3 separate regions of the Homo sapiens genome follow, and all the other regions are linked to region 2. Evidence: fine-mapped expression QTL. A gene starts in region 2. Each other region holds a variant in brackets. All regions are shown on one strand. Distances are from middle to middle.

Region 1 (4,238 bases), 34 kb before region 2:
CTGCAGATAACTAGCCAGAGCCCATTCCTTTGTTTCGGCCCATCCCTTTGTTTCCTGTAAGGAATACTTTTAGTTAATCTATAATCTATAGAAATAATGCTTATCACTGGCTTGCTGTCAATAAATATGTGGGTCAAACTCTGTTTGGGGCTCTCAGCTCTGCAGGCTGTTGAGTCCCCTGATTTCCCACTCCACACTACATATTTCTGTGTGTGTGTCTTTAATTCCTCCAGCACGGCTGGGTTAGGGTCTCCACGACGGAGCTGGTCTCAGCAAGTGGGGCTCGAACCCAGATCGAAGGGTTGCCGGAGCAATGGTTGGAGAATGTGGAACTAAGCTGGAGGACACCCAAGTACTCTTAAGCAATCCCTGTAGTGAGTAAGAAGGGGAGCTCAGAAGCATCAGGGTAACAATGGGACAAGTGTGGGCTCTGGTTCGTCCCACCTTGGAACCTTTTCACACTGATGATGAGGAGGAAGGAGAGTATAACAAAGTAACAGAAAAGGTAACAGAGCAGGTTTGTTTGCCAGCTAAAGCTAAAGAGGCAAAGGAGGAAGAGTTCATCCCTACCTTTCTGCACTCCCTCCTTATTTTGAAGAAAAAGAGCAGCCTGACCCTCCAGATCTTTCTTTTACGGAGGACACTGGGCGAAAAGTAGTTGCCCCAGTGACTGTTCGAGCAGCTCTTCGAGTGACTGCTGTCAGTTCTATTCAGGCAGGAATCCAGCAAGCTAGAAGAGAGGGTGATATAGGCCGGAACTGGTGGCTCACACCTGTAATCCCAGCACTTTGGGAGGCTGAGGTGGGCGGATCACGAGGTCAGGAGATCGAGACCATCCTGGCTAACACAGTGAAACCCCGTCTCTACTAAAAATACAAAAAAAATTAGCCGGGCATGGTGGCGGGCTCCTGTAGTCCCAGCTACTGGGGAGGCTGAGGCAGGAGAACGGCATGAACCTGGGAGGCAGAGCTTGCAGTGAGCAGAGATCGTGCCACTGCACTCCAGCCTGTGTGACAGAGTGAGACCCGTTTCAAAAAAAAAAAAAAAGAAAGAAAAGGAGAGGGTGATATAGAGGCTTGGCAGTTCCCTGTTAGGATATACCCCCCAGATCAACAGAGAAATATTATAGCTATATTTGAGGCTTTTCTCTTTAAATTACTTAAAGAGTTTAAACAGGCTATCAGTATGAACCAGGTATATGCCTGAAGTGTAAAAAAGGAAAACATTGGGCCAATCAGCATCATTCTAAATTTGATAAGGATGGAAACCCAATTTCGGGAAATGCCATGAGGGGCCCGTTCAGGGCCCGTCCCAGGCCCGTTCCAAACCGGGGCATTTCCGGCTCAGGCCATTCCCTCACCCCTATACAATGTCTGTCCCCTGCCACAGCCGGTAGTGCCGCAGTAGATTTATGCTGCACAAAAGCTGTGGAGCCTTCTGCCTGGGGAACCTCTGCAAAAAAGTTCCAACAGGGGTCTGTGGACCCTTGCCAGCTGGGACAATAGGATTACTTCTAGACAGGTCTAGTTTAAATTTAAAAGGAGTGCAAGTACAAACAGGAGTCACTGATTCACATTACAATGGGGAAATTCACGTTGTTATATCTACTTCTGTTCCCTGGAAAGCAGAGCCAGGACAGCATATAACACAACTCCTGATTGTGCCATATGTAGAAATGGGGAAAAGTGAAATTAAATGAACAGGAGGATTTGGAAGCACAAATAAACAAGGCAAAGCAGTTTATTGGGTGAATCAAATTACTGATAAACATCCTACCTGTGAAATAACTATTCAGGGAAAGAAATTTAAAGGTTTGGTAGATACAGGAGTGGACGTTTCAATCATTTATCTACAGCACTGGCCGTCCACGTGGCCAATTCAACCCGCTCAATTTAACATAGTTGGAGTTGGTAAAGCCCCTGAAGTATATTAAAGTAGTTATATTTTGCATTGTGAAGGGCCCAATGGACAACCTGGACTATTCAACCAATTATAACTTCTGTACCTATAAATTTATTACAACAATGGGGAGCACAAGTTCTAATTCCAGAACAATTATACAGCCCTCAAAGTCAACATATGATGCATAAAATGGGGTATGTTCCTGGTACGGGACTAGGAAAAAATTTGCAAAGTTCGAAGGAACCGCTTCAAG[C/T]GGAAAGACAAATTTCCCACCAAGGTTTAAGATTATTATTTTTGATGGCGGCCATTTTTAAGCCTCCAGAACCTATACCTTTAAAATGGTTAATGAATAAGCCAATTTGGATAGAACAATGGCCACTGAGTAAAGAGAAACTGGAGGCTTTAGAGGACTTAGTTACTGAACAATTAGAAAAAGAACACATAGCTCCAACATTTTCCCCTTGGAATTCTCCAGTTTTCATAATTAAGAAAAAATCAGGTAAATGGAGAATGTTAACTGACTTAAGGGCCATTAATTCAATTATACAACCTATGGGGACATTACAGCCAGGACTGCCTTCTCCTGCTATGATTCCAAAAAACTGGTCTTTAATAGTCATAGATTTAAAAGACTGTTTCTTTACTATCCCCTTAGCTAAGCAAGACTGAATGGTTTGCATTTACAATTCTTGCAGTAAACAACCTGCAGCCTGCTAAGCATTTTCATTAGAAAGTGTTGCCTCAAGGCATGTTGAACAGTCCAACAATTTGCCAGACTTATGTAAGACAAGCAATTGAACCGACTCGTAAAAAATTTCCACAGTGTTACATTACTCATTGTATAGAAGATATAATTTGTGCTGCCCCCACTCGAGAAATATTACTCCAATGTTATGATCACTTGCAAAACTTGATTTTTCCTGCCAGTTTAATTATAGCCCCTGACAAATTTCAGACTACTACTCCTTACTCCTACTTGGGGACCTTAGTAAATGACACTACAATTGTGCCACAGAAAGTAACCATACGTAGAGATCAATTGAAAACATTAAATGACTTTCAAAAATGACTAAAGACCATTAATTGGACACAACCTGCTCTAGGCATTCCTACCTATGCCATGAGTAATCTATTTTCTATCCTTAGAGGAGATCTTAGTCTCACTAGCCCTCAACAATTAACAAAGGAGGCTGAGGCAGAGTTACAGCTGATTAAAAAGCAAGTCCATAAGGCCTACCCGGAAAAATCTCACTGCCTCTCCCCAGACTATTACTTGTTAGATGGAACTCTCCCCCACTTAATGGGTTCCACCTGAACCCCCTCACTGCTATTATGTGGACCTGGAAAGTTGGGTATCTATACTTCTAGTGCACTAATGATTCTATCTTTGGCACCCAGTGTTGTGTTAATGACACAAAAGCCAAGTTTCCTGCAATGCTCTGATCCAGCCTTAGTTGCCAAGTTCCCAATGCCACAGCAAAGTAAATGGGATAGAACTTGTAAGCAATGAGACCATCTATGGTTCCTTCCCCTGGATCAGAACATACAGGAGAAAAAAAAAAAGGAACACATGGGAGAAAAACAACTATTTAGTCTGGGAAGGTGGGAGTACCTCCTCCCCTTTTGGAAAACAAAGATTGTTCAACCACCCCAATTAGAACAGGGAAAAATATCTCTATAGACACAACTTGGCAGCAAAGGGTAGGCATCGCACCCCGTAGGGACCCTGTTTGTGCTCCAACTGGGCTTGTTTTTGTTTGTGGCCATGAGTGGGAAGAAGTCATGCCCTGTAACCACTCCTGACTCCCTGGGGAGTCACCTGTTCTTTTAAGAATAGCTTTCCCTTGTATATCAAAAACATGAAACAGAGGTGACTGTATGTTGGCCACCCTTTCCCCTCCAGGAGTCACACAGTCTATAACCCCGTAAGACCCAAGAACACCAGAAATAAATGAGCAATAGTGTTACTGGTTGAGGGTAGTTGTCCAGGTTCTTGGCGTTTTGAACAAATAATCAGACAAAACACACAAAGCAAGGCAGTAAAAGCAGAAACTTATTTTAAGTAAAAGCACACCCCATAGGGTAGGAGTGGGCTCAAGCAAGTGGCTCAAGAGCATCAGTTACAGAATTTTCTGGGGTTTAAATACCCTCTAGAGACCAGGCGTGGTGGCTCACACCTGTAATCTCAGCACTTTGGGAGGCCAAGGCGAGTGGATCACCTGAGGTCAGGAGTTCCAGACAAGCCTGACCAACATGGTAAAACCCCATCTCTACTAAAAATACAAAATTAGCTGGGTGTGGTGGTGCATGCCTGTAATCCCAGCTACTCGGGAGGC
Region 2 (4,238 bases):
ACTTTTTGCATCACAGGCTGAAATACAAGATTTGACTGACTAAAGCGTAAGGAGGTACTGGATTAGGTGAGGACAATTCAGGAAGACAACAGCCCTGGCTGGAAACCAAACCCAAAGCTAAGGAGGTGGTGGTAGTGACTATGATCCCTGCTGAGGAAGATCAGCTTTGGGGCGAGAGTCGGGACGAAAGTCGTTCGGTGTAAGTGGGAAGTAGGGACAGCCTTACTCACAGCGCACTCCCAGGCAGATGGCGGTCACTCCTAACAGCAGGCAGGTGAGGAGCAGGCCGAGCAGGAGGTATCGCAGGCAGGTTGTGCGGCCTTAGGGGGACAGTGGGATGGATGAGGGCAGTCAGCCCCCGTAAAGAATGTAGAGAGGAAGGGACAGGTCCGTGGGGGAGACCCCTGGGGAAGGCATCCCTAAGAGGAGGGCGGTGCAGAGCTGAGGGGGCAAGCATGGTGGTTTCTGTCGGGTAGCGGGGTGTTTCGCAGGTAGGGGAGAGGGTGTTCCAGAATCAGTGCTGGTGGGGACTCGGGGGCGTTACCTGGGAGAAGGGGAAGGAAATATCAGACGGAGAGAGGGGAAGGGGGGCAGGTAGGTGAATTGGGACCATCCGCAGGGGGGCGGTGCACGTCGGATTCAGGCGCACCGGATGAAGGTGAATGTGGCACGGCAGCCCGGGCGTCGGAAGGACTGCGCCCGGGTTTATCCCGGAAGGAGCTGCACCCCGCGGGGCCCAGCGCCATCCGCAGCCGGGACAGGCGCGAGCACTTGGCCCCGCGGCTGCCCCGCACAGGCACACTCACAGGGGAGAATCCGCCCGACAGCTGGTGACGTCACGGCTCTCCAGGACGCAGTTGGCTGCTCCGACTTGACCGCTGTCGAGGGGAGCATCCAGTGTGAGACCGGAAGCCCCGAGTGTTGCCCCTTCTCCTCCTGCGCACCCGCTTCGCCCTCGCCACTGGGAAACTCCAGTCTGCCCTACGTTGCCTGCTAGAGCTGCTCTGGGACACAGTGTCACTCTCCTGAGTTCCTCCTCTGCCCGGGACTCTCTCGGCTTCCTCCTGGGTCTCACTGTATCTTTTCCCGGGACCCCCTCATCTCTCCTAGTTCTCCCTTTATCGTTTCCTCAGAGGCCCCTTATCTGTCGGCTCCAAACCCTCTCCCCCTTTGCTCTCATCCATCTCCCATCACCTCTTTTCCCTCCCATGGCTCCCCGTTTCCCATTAGAACTCATCCCCCACAGGGCTGCCCTATCCCTCCGCAGCCCTTATCTCCCCGAAAGGGGTCTCCACCTTGCGGGAGGAATCTTTCTTCCTCCCCTGGCTCCCATTTATCCTGTTCCTATTCTTCTGTTTCCTAAGAACCGCCCTCCTCCTTTCCCCAGGGTATTGTGCTCTCAAGAATACTGAGGGCCATGGCATGGGGGCGCACGCCTGCAATCCCAACACTTTGGGAGGCCAGGGCAGGAGGATCACTTGAGCCCAGGAGGTCGAGGCTGCAGTGAGCCATGATCACACCACTGCACTCCAGCCTGAGTGACAGAACAAGACCCTGTCTCAAGAACAACAACAAAAACATTGTGGACTCCCCAGCTCAAGACACAGCCCCCCAACAAACACACATCCCCCAGGCTCTCCAGACCTGCTTTGTCCCCTAGTACAGAAGAAGCCAAGCTTGAGGGCACCCCTAGGACTGCGGGCACTTGAACATTCTCGTAGGTGATTTCCCCATCATCATCAGCCCCTGGGTCTAGAGAGAAGAGAAAAGGGACCAAGGTGGGATTTGGGAATGGGATCTGTGGGGCGGGAAGTGGGGATGCAGGATCAAGGGGAGGCCTCATCCCCCTTACCCTGTCCTAACCGGCTGGAGATGCTCTTCTTCAGGGGAGCCTTCACAAACCTCAGATCTGCATAGGTGATGGCCTCAGCCATGGTCCTGAGCAGCTCTGCCCCCACTCGTCTTCCCTGTCATCCACTGTCCTCCCTTGCCCCTCTCGTCTCTGTCCGTTTACAACTAGGCTCTGTGTTCCCTCTGTGACTGCACGGCTTAGCAATTGGCCCTGTGACTTCCAGTCACAAAAGAGGAAGGTGTTAGCAAGTCTCAAACAGATGGGCTCAATGAAGCAGAAGGCATCCCTGGGCCAGGGCCAGAGGGGCCACGGAGGGGACGCTGAGGTCCAGAACACAGGGGTAGGGGATGGGCCTGTCCCCATGTCCTCCCTGTGCTTCCTCTCCATGCATCTTAAACCCATATGGGCCATGCTGGGCCCCAAACTCGGTCCTTCTGGTTATCTGCCCTGATCTGCCCCACCCTCCTCCTGGCTGCCTTGTCCACTGGGGCTTATGATGTGTAGCTGGAGCTGCACTGACCCAGACGATCTCCCCAGCTCCAGGGTGAGGCTCCGTTCTCCCCATGAGACTGGGGGTTCCTGGTTTGCATCCCTCGCTTCTCATCATCCTGGGGGTTCCAGTAACTGGGGGTTCAGGAACAGGCCTGGGCCAGAGGTGAAGGTAAGGAAGAGCCATGGCTGCAGCACCTCTGGAAAGGCAAGTGGCAGCACTGCCCCCCATGCACCCTCATGGGGAGCCAGGGAGCAGGTGAGCAAGGGAGTTGCAGAGGGCTTAAGAAGGCTGCAGCTTCCTAGGTGAAGTCAAGGCAGAGGAGCAGAACAGAGCCAGAGGCCGAGCGCAGATTCCGGACCAGCGGAGGTCTTGACATTTTCTTGGTTTGGTTTTGGTTCGTCTCTTACTTTCCTAGCAAAGTTCTTTCTTTAAAAAGTCCCAAAGCTGTCCCTTCCCACCCAGCCCCAAGGAAAAAGGGGGCATTTGTGGCGGAGGACCCAGGGACCGCGAGGCCCTCATAGGTGGTGGGGGCCTGGCTGATGGAGGAGAGAGGGAACCAGTTGGGGGAAAGGGGGCTGCTGAGCAGGGGTGCCCAAAGGTGCTCCCTAATGTTCTTTTACCGGGATGTGACCCCTACTAGGAACCCCAAAATGGCCTACATCCGGGATAGGAAGGAGCTAGAACAAGATGTAGTGTGGGGGTGGGAAGAACCCGCCCCTAGCAAAGTGACATCCGCCCCGCAGAATCCCCCTCCTGCAGCTGTGGGGAGGAAAAAGGAAGGGGGAAAAGGTCCTCACCACATGCCAACAGCTCGGATGATTGGTGGTGTGTGGCAGGACACTGCCAGGGACCCTAGAGCTCTGCCAATAGCTCCGCCCAGCCAGCCCTAGAGGAAGTGGCCACTGAGGCAAAGCTGTGACCTCAAAAATGTACTTGTAGAGAGGCACGTGTGCATGTGTGTGCATGGATATGCATGTTCCCAGGACTTTGCAGTCTGTTAGGGCATCTGTGAGGTGAGCGGCTATGTCAGAGCCTGCCTGGAGGAGGAAGCCTTCTGTGGGCTGAAGGCTGCCTGTGATCACTGTTATTTTCCATGGCAGAGAATGACGGGTCATTTTCAGAAAAGTCGTCAAAGGTCATCACAAGAGATCCTACAAGTATTTCCTTTTTGAAGCTCACTGTTTCCTAAGGTGCCTCTGCAGCTGTTAACTGTCCTTGCTTGATTAAAGTTTCCAACAACCTAGACCTTCCCCCAGATACAGAGAGTGGTATGTGGTGGTGACTCCCTGGGGACCTCAGGGGCCCTGAGAGTGAGTGGGAGGGTATAGAGCAGCTGGTGGCAGGGGTGGGTGGGGTGGGAAGAGTCAAATACTTGAACCTGTGGTGTACAGGGGGTGGGTGTGGGCAGTGTGTGAGTAAATCAATTGCAGGAACATTTGCAGGAGTTCCACAAACTGTAGAATGTCCCAGTTTTCAGATCCAATACACAGGTGAACATGATGTAGATGCCAGGTAAAATGCCAAAACCAAGCTTCTAGTCTGCACTCAAAAAGGTGTCTGTGGCCAACATAGTGAAACCCCGTCTCTACTACAAAATACAAAAAAATTAGCCTGGTGTGGTGGCTCGAACCTGTAGTCCCAGCTACTCAGGAGGCTGAGGCAGGAGAATCGCTTGAACCCAGGAGGTGGAGGTTGCAGTGAGCCAAGATCACACCATTGCACTCCAGCCTAGGCAACAAGAGCAAAGCTCCATCTCCAAAAAAAAAAAAAAAAATGGAATACATGGGCTTGCTGCCTAACTTGACCTGTAGAGAGGCTTAAGAAGGGGATCTCCTGGCCGGCATGGTGGCTCACACCTGTAATCCCAGCACTTTGGGAGGCTGAGGTGGGCGG
Region 3 (4,238 bases), 21 kb after region 2:
TAAGTACTTTGTGATATTCCCCCACCCTTGTGAATGTACTTTGTACGATACACCCTCCCCACCCTTAAGAAGGTACTTTGTAATATTCTCCCCACGCTTGAGAACGTACTTTGTAAGAAGATCTACCCCCTGCCCGCAAAAAATTGCTCCTAACTCTATCGCCTATCCCAAAACTATAAAAACTAATGATAATCCCATCACCCTTTGCTGACTCTCTATTCGGACTCAGCCCGCCTGCACCCAGGTGAAATAAACAGCCTTATTGCTCACACAAAGCCTGTTTGGTGGTCTCTTCACACAGACGTGCATGGCATTTGGTGCTGAAGACCCGGGACAGGAGGACTCCTTCGGGAGGCGGGTCCCCTGTCCTCGCCCTAACTCTGTGAGGAGATCCACCTACAACCTCGGGTCCTCAGACCAACCAGCCCAAGGAACATCTCACCAATTTCAAATTGGGTAAGCGGTCTTTTCACTCTCTTCTCCAGCCTCTCTTGCTACCCTTCAATCTCCCTCTCTTGCTACCCTTCAATCTCCCTGTCCTTCCAATTCCAGTTCTTTTTCCTCTCTAGTAGAGACAAAGGAGACACATTTTATCTGTGGACCCAAAACTCCGGCGCTGGTCATGGACTCAGGAAGACAGCCTTCCCTTGGTGTCTAATCACTGCGGGGATGCCTGCCTGATTATTCACCCACATTTCATTGGTGTCTGATCACCACGGGGATGCCTGCCTTGGTCATTCACCCACATTCCCTTGGTGGCAAGTCAATTGTGGGGACGCCTGCTTTGGCTGCTCACCCACATTGCAGCCCAGGGCTGCTCATCACCCCCTGCTCCGTGTCTCTACCTTTCTCTTTAAACTTACCTCCTTCACTATGGGCAACCTTCCACCCTCGATTCCCCCATCTTTTCCCTTAGCCTGTGTTCTTGAAAACCCCTTCAACTCACACCTGACCTAAAACCTAAATGCCTTATTTTCTTCTGCAATACCACTTGGCCCCAATACAAACTCGAAAATAGTTCCAAGTGGCCAGAGAACGGCACTGTCAATTTGTCTATCCTACAAGACCTAGATAATTTTTGTCGAAAAATGGGCAAATGGTCGGAGGTGCCGTACATCCGGGCGTCTTTCACACTTCATTCTCTCCCTAGTCTCTGTTCCCAATGCGACTTGTCCCAAATCCTCCTTCTTTCCCTCCCACCTGTCCCTTCAGTCCCAACCCCAAGTGTTGCTGGGTCTTTTGAATCTTCCTTTTCTACCGACCCATCTGACCTCTCCCCTCCTCCCCAGACTGCTCCTCCTCAGGTCGCTCCCCACCAGGCTGAATCAGGCTCCAGCTCCTCTTCAGCCTCCGCTCCCCCACCCTATAACCCTTCTATCACCTCCCCTCCTCACACCCAGTCTGGCTTACAGTTTTGTTCTGCGACTAGCTCTCCCCCACCTGCCCAACAATTTCCTCTTAGAGAAGTGGCTGGAGCTGAAGGCATAGTCTGGGTACATGCGCCTTTTTCTGTATCAGACTTTTCCCAAATCAGCCAGTGTTTGGGCTCTTTCTCATCAGACCCCGCTAAATATATACAGGAATTCCGATATCTAACTCTGTCCTGCAAGTTAACCTGCAGTGACTTAAATGTCATCCTGACTTCCACCCTCTCCCCAGATGAACAGGAAAGAGTTTTTTCTCTAGCCCAGTCTCACGCTGACAACCGCTGGCTTCATGAGCCAGGCCTCCAGGAAGGCATCAGAGCAGTTCCCCGAGAGGACCCCCAAAGGAACTATCAGGCAGATTCCCCAGGTATAGCTAGGCGAGATTACATGATTTCCTGCCTAGTTGAAGGGCTTAAAAAGGCAGCACACAAAGCTGTTAATTCTGACAAGCTAAAGGAAACTACCCAAGGTAAAGGCGAAAACCCAGCCCAGTTCCTGGCCCGCTTGGCAGCAACCCTTAGACGCTTTACCGCCCTAGACCCAGAGGGGCCGGAAGGCCGCCTTATT[CT/C]TTTTTTTTTTTTTTAGATGTATTTTACTTTTATTTTTTTAATCTTTGGGCACAAAGATTTGACACATTATTTCAAAAGAATACAACTACTCATCCAGTAGGAATAAATTCAACAAACATTAATTGATGAGCAAAGTACTGGCTTTAAAAAAATAAACTAAGTAAATTTTTTTTCCCTTGGGTAATAAAATAATAATAAAAGAAGAGACATTGGGTTAAGCACCCTTAGGGCAAAATAAAAATGCAATTGGTTTCTCAAAAACTTGCTTTTGACATCTCAAAAAAAGTCATGCTAGGGAAATGAGCTAAGAAAGCACATTGTTATTTGTACGTGGTAGTGTGACATCCTTGCCATGTTGAAGGTAAGACCATCTAAAGGTCAAGACAGTACACAGAGACTATAAAAACAAAATTGAAATAAAAAGCAGGATAATAAAATGAAAGGAAAAGTAGAAACTGCCAGAAAGAAGCAGAAGCAGCACAACTGTCAAGGAGACAGTGTAAATTCAGATGCCATCAAGCTTTACCACAAAGAGATAAAGGAAAAGGCCAATTTTGATGACAAATGACAAAGTGTAACATCCAAAGAGAAATGGAGAAAAAAGAGGTCATCTGTCCTCCTGTGAACATTTGAATAGTTCTCAGATACACTTAGTTTGAGCAGAATTATGTGATTACTGAGTTCTTCCCTCTCTGCTTGGCAAAAATGATGGAAGTCTTGTCTCCAATTTTAACCCTATTTGCCTTTTTGCAACAATATGGCAGGTTGTTTACATGCTGGCTGGGGAAAGGGAAACTAAGAGTAAAAACCAACCAGTTGTTACTTTGCAAAATGGAAATGTAACTCTGAGGATTAAGCAATCTTGACTGCTAACAAAATTAATTCCTGAACACCATGAAAAAGGAAAAAATACATAGAAATTGATATTTTAAACGTTAAATATTCAGCAGTTTCTCTTATTTGGCAAAATCTTTTTGAAGCAAAGCTGATCTCATTTTGGTTTAGATCACATCAAAGAATTTCCACCAAAAATGACTGAATTATTGCTATTTACTAAAATGGTTTTCATTCTGTGACATTTTTCTGTTTCAACCAAAATTGGTGTACTAAAAGCCATTTCTGGCACTGACCATCTACAGTTAGTGCAGACTCCATAAGTTAAGGGCTTAATCCTTCACAAATCTTCTCTTCAGATTCCAGCTGTACTTTGGGGGTCCCCAGGTCACCCACACTTCTGAACAACTAGCTATAAATTTGGTGATTCCCATGACCCTGTTAGTGTTACCGTGGGTCTTTGCTCACAGAGCTCCCAAGATGGTGGTGAGCCGCTTCCAAGATGGTGGCAAGCCTTGTGTTCTCTGACTTGGGGTTCTTGGCCTCACGGATTCCAAGGAATGGAATCTTGGGCCATGCGATGAGTGTTATAGCTCTATTAGAAGCCGTGGGTCACGGAAGAGAACTGTGGAACCCAGTGACTAGTGTTCAGCTCGATTAGGACGAACCCAGGCACTTAGCCGTGCAAGAACAATGGGAAGCCTTTAGCACGATCGGGAGTGGCAATGGGAGTCTCACTGGGTCAGGAGCACAGCAGACACCCTGCCGGATCTGGAGGGATGGGAGTCAGCAGCAGGATGGGAGTCAGCGGCAGGTCTGCGACAGTGGCAAACAGCAGTGGTGGACGGGGAGCGAAAGCTCAGCTCGAGCCGTAACAAACATGGACCAGAAGAGTGCAGTTGCAAGATTTAATAGAGTGAAAACAGAGCTCCCATACAAAGGGAGGGGACCCAAAGGGGGTTGCCATTGCCGGCTTGAATGCCCGGGTTTATATCCCGATCCTTGTCCCTCCTGCTGTGCTCTCAGGCAAAAGGTGATTGGCTATTTCTTTACCTCCTGTTTTTGCCTAATTAGCATTTTAGTGAGCTCTCTGATTGGTTGGGTGTGAGCTAAGTGGCAAGCCCCATGTTTAAAGGTGGATGCAGTCACCTTCCCAGCTACGCTTAGGGATTCTTAGTCGGCCTAGGAAATCCAGCTAGTCTTGTCTCTCAGTGCCCCCTCTCAACAGGAAAACCCAAGTGCTGTTGGGGAGGTTGGCTGATGACCGCTGTAACTGCTTCCTGCTGAATTGGGGCATAGTAGGGGTTGCACAGTTGAGATTTCCTCGGGGGGGGTGCCTTCGATGTCATTAACATCGGAGCATGGGCTAGCAGGCTGGTCCAGGGGTCTGTGGTGGATCTTAGTCATG

The links. PIP is the estimated chance that this variant, and not a neighbour inherited with it, causes the effect.
Region 1: its variant is the best candidate, but not a certain one, in a credible set for the expression of CD72 in whole blood (INTERVAL, PIP 0.62).
Region 3: its variant is the best candidate, but not a certain one, in a credible set for the expression of CD72 in whole blood (INTERVAL, PIP 0.63).

What each region holds. Positions count from the first base shown.
Region 1 is chr9:35,582,209-35,586,446 of GRCh38, forward strand. No RefSeq gene overlaps it. Among named protein-coding and RNA genes, the nearest start is that of CIMIP2B, 20 kb to the left of the region's middle. The variant C/T (reference allele first, on the strand shown) is at 2,156.
Region 2 is chr9:35,616,370-35,620,607 of GRCh38, forward strand. CD72 (CD72 molecule) reads right to left here and starts at 2,044. Exons shown (of 9, transcript NM_001782.3): 1 at 1,853-2,044; 2 at 1,645-1,752; 3 at 807-878; 4 at 231-320. The coding sequence starts at 1,934. RefSeq lists enhancers at 1-459, 899-1,048.
Region 3 is chr9:35,637,030-35,641,267 of GRCh38, forward strand. It overlaps a transcript of CD72 not described here. Among named protein-coding and RNA genes, the nearest start is that of SIT1, 12 kb to the right of the region's middle. The variant CT/C (reference allele first, on the strand shown) is at 1,995.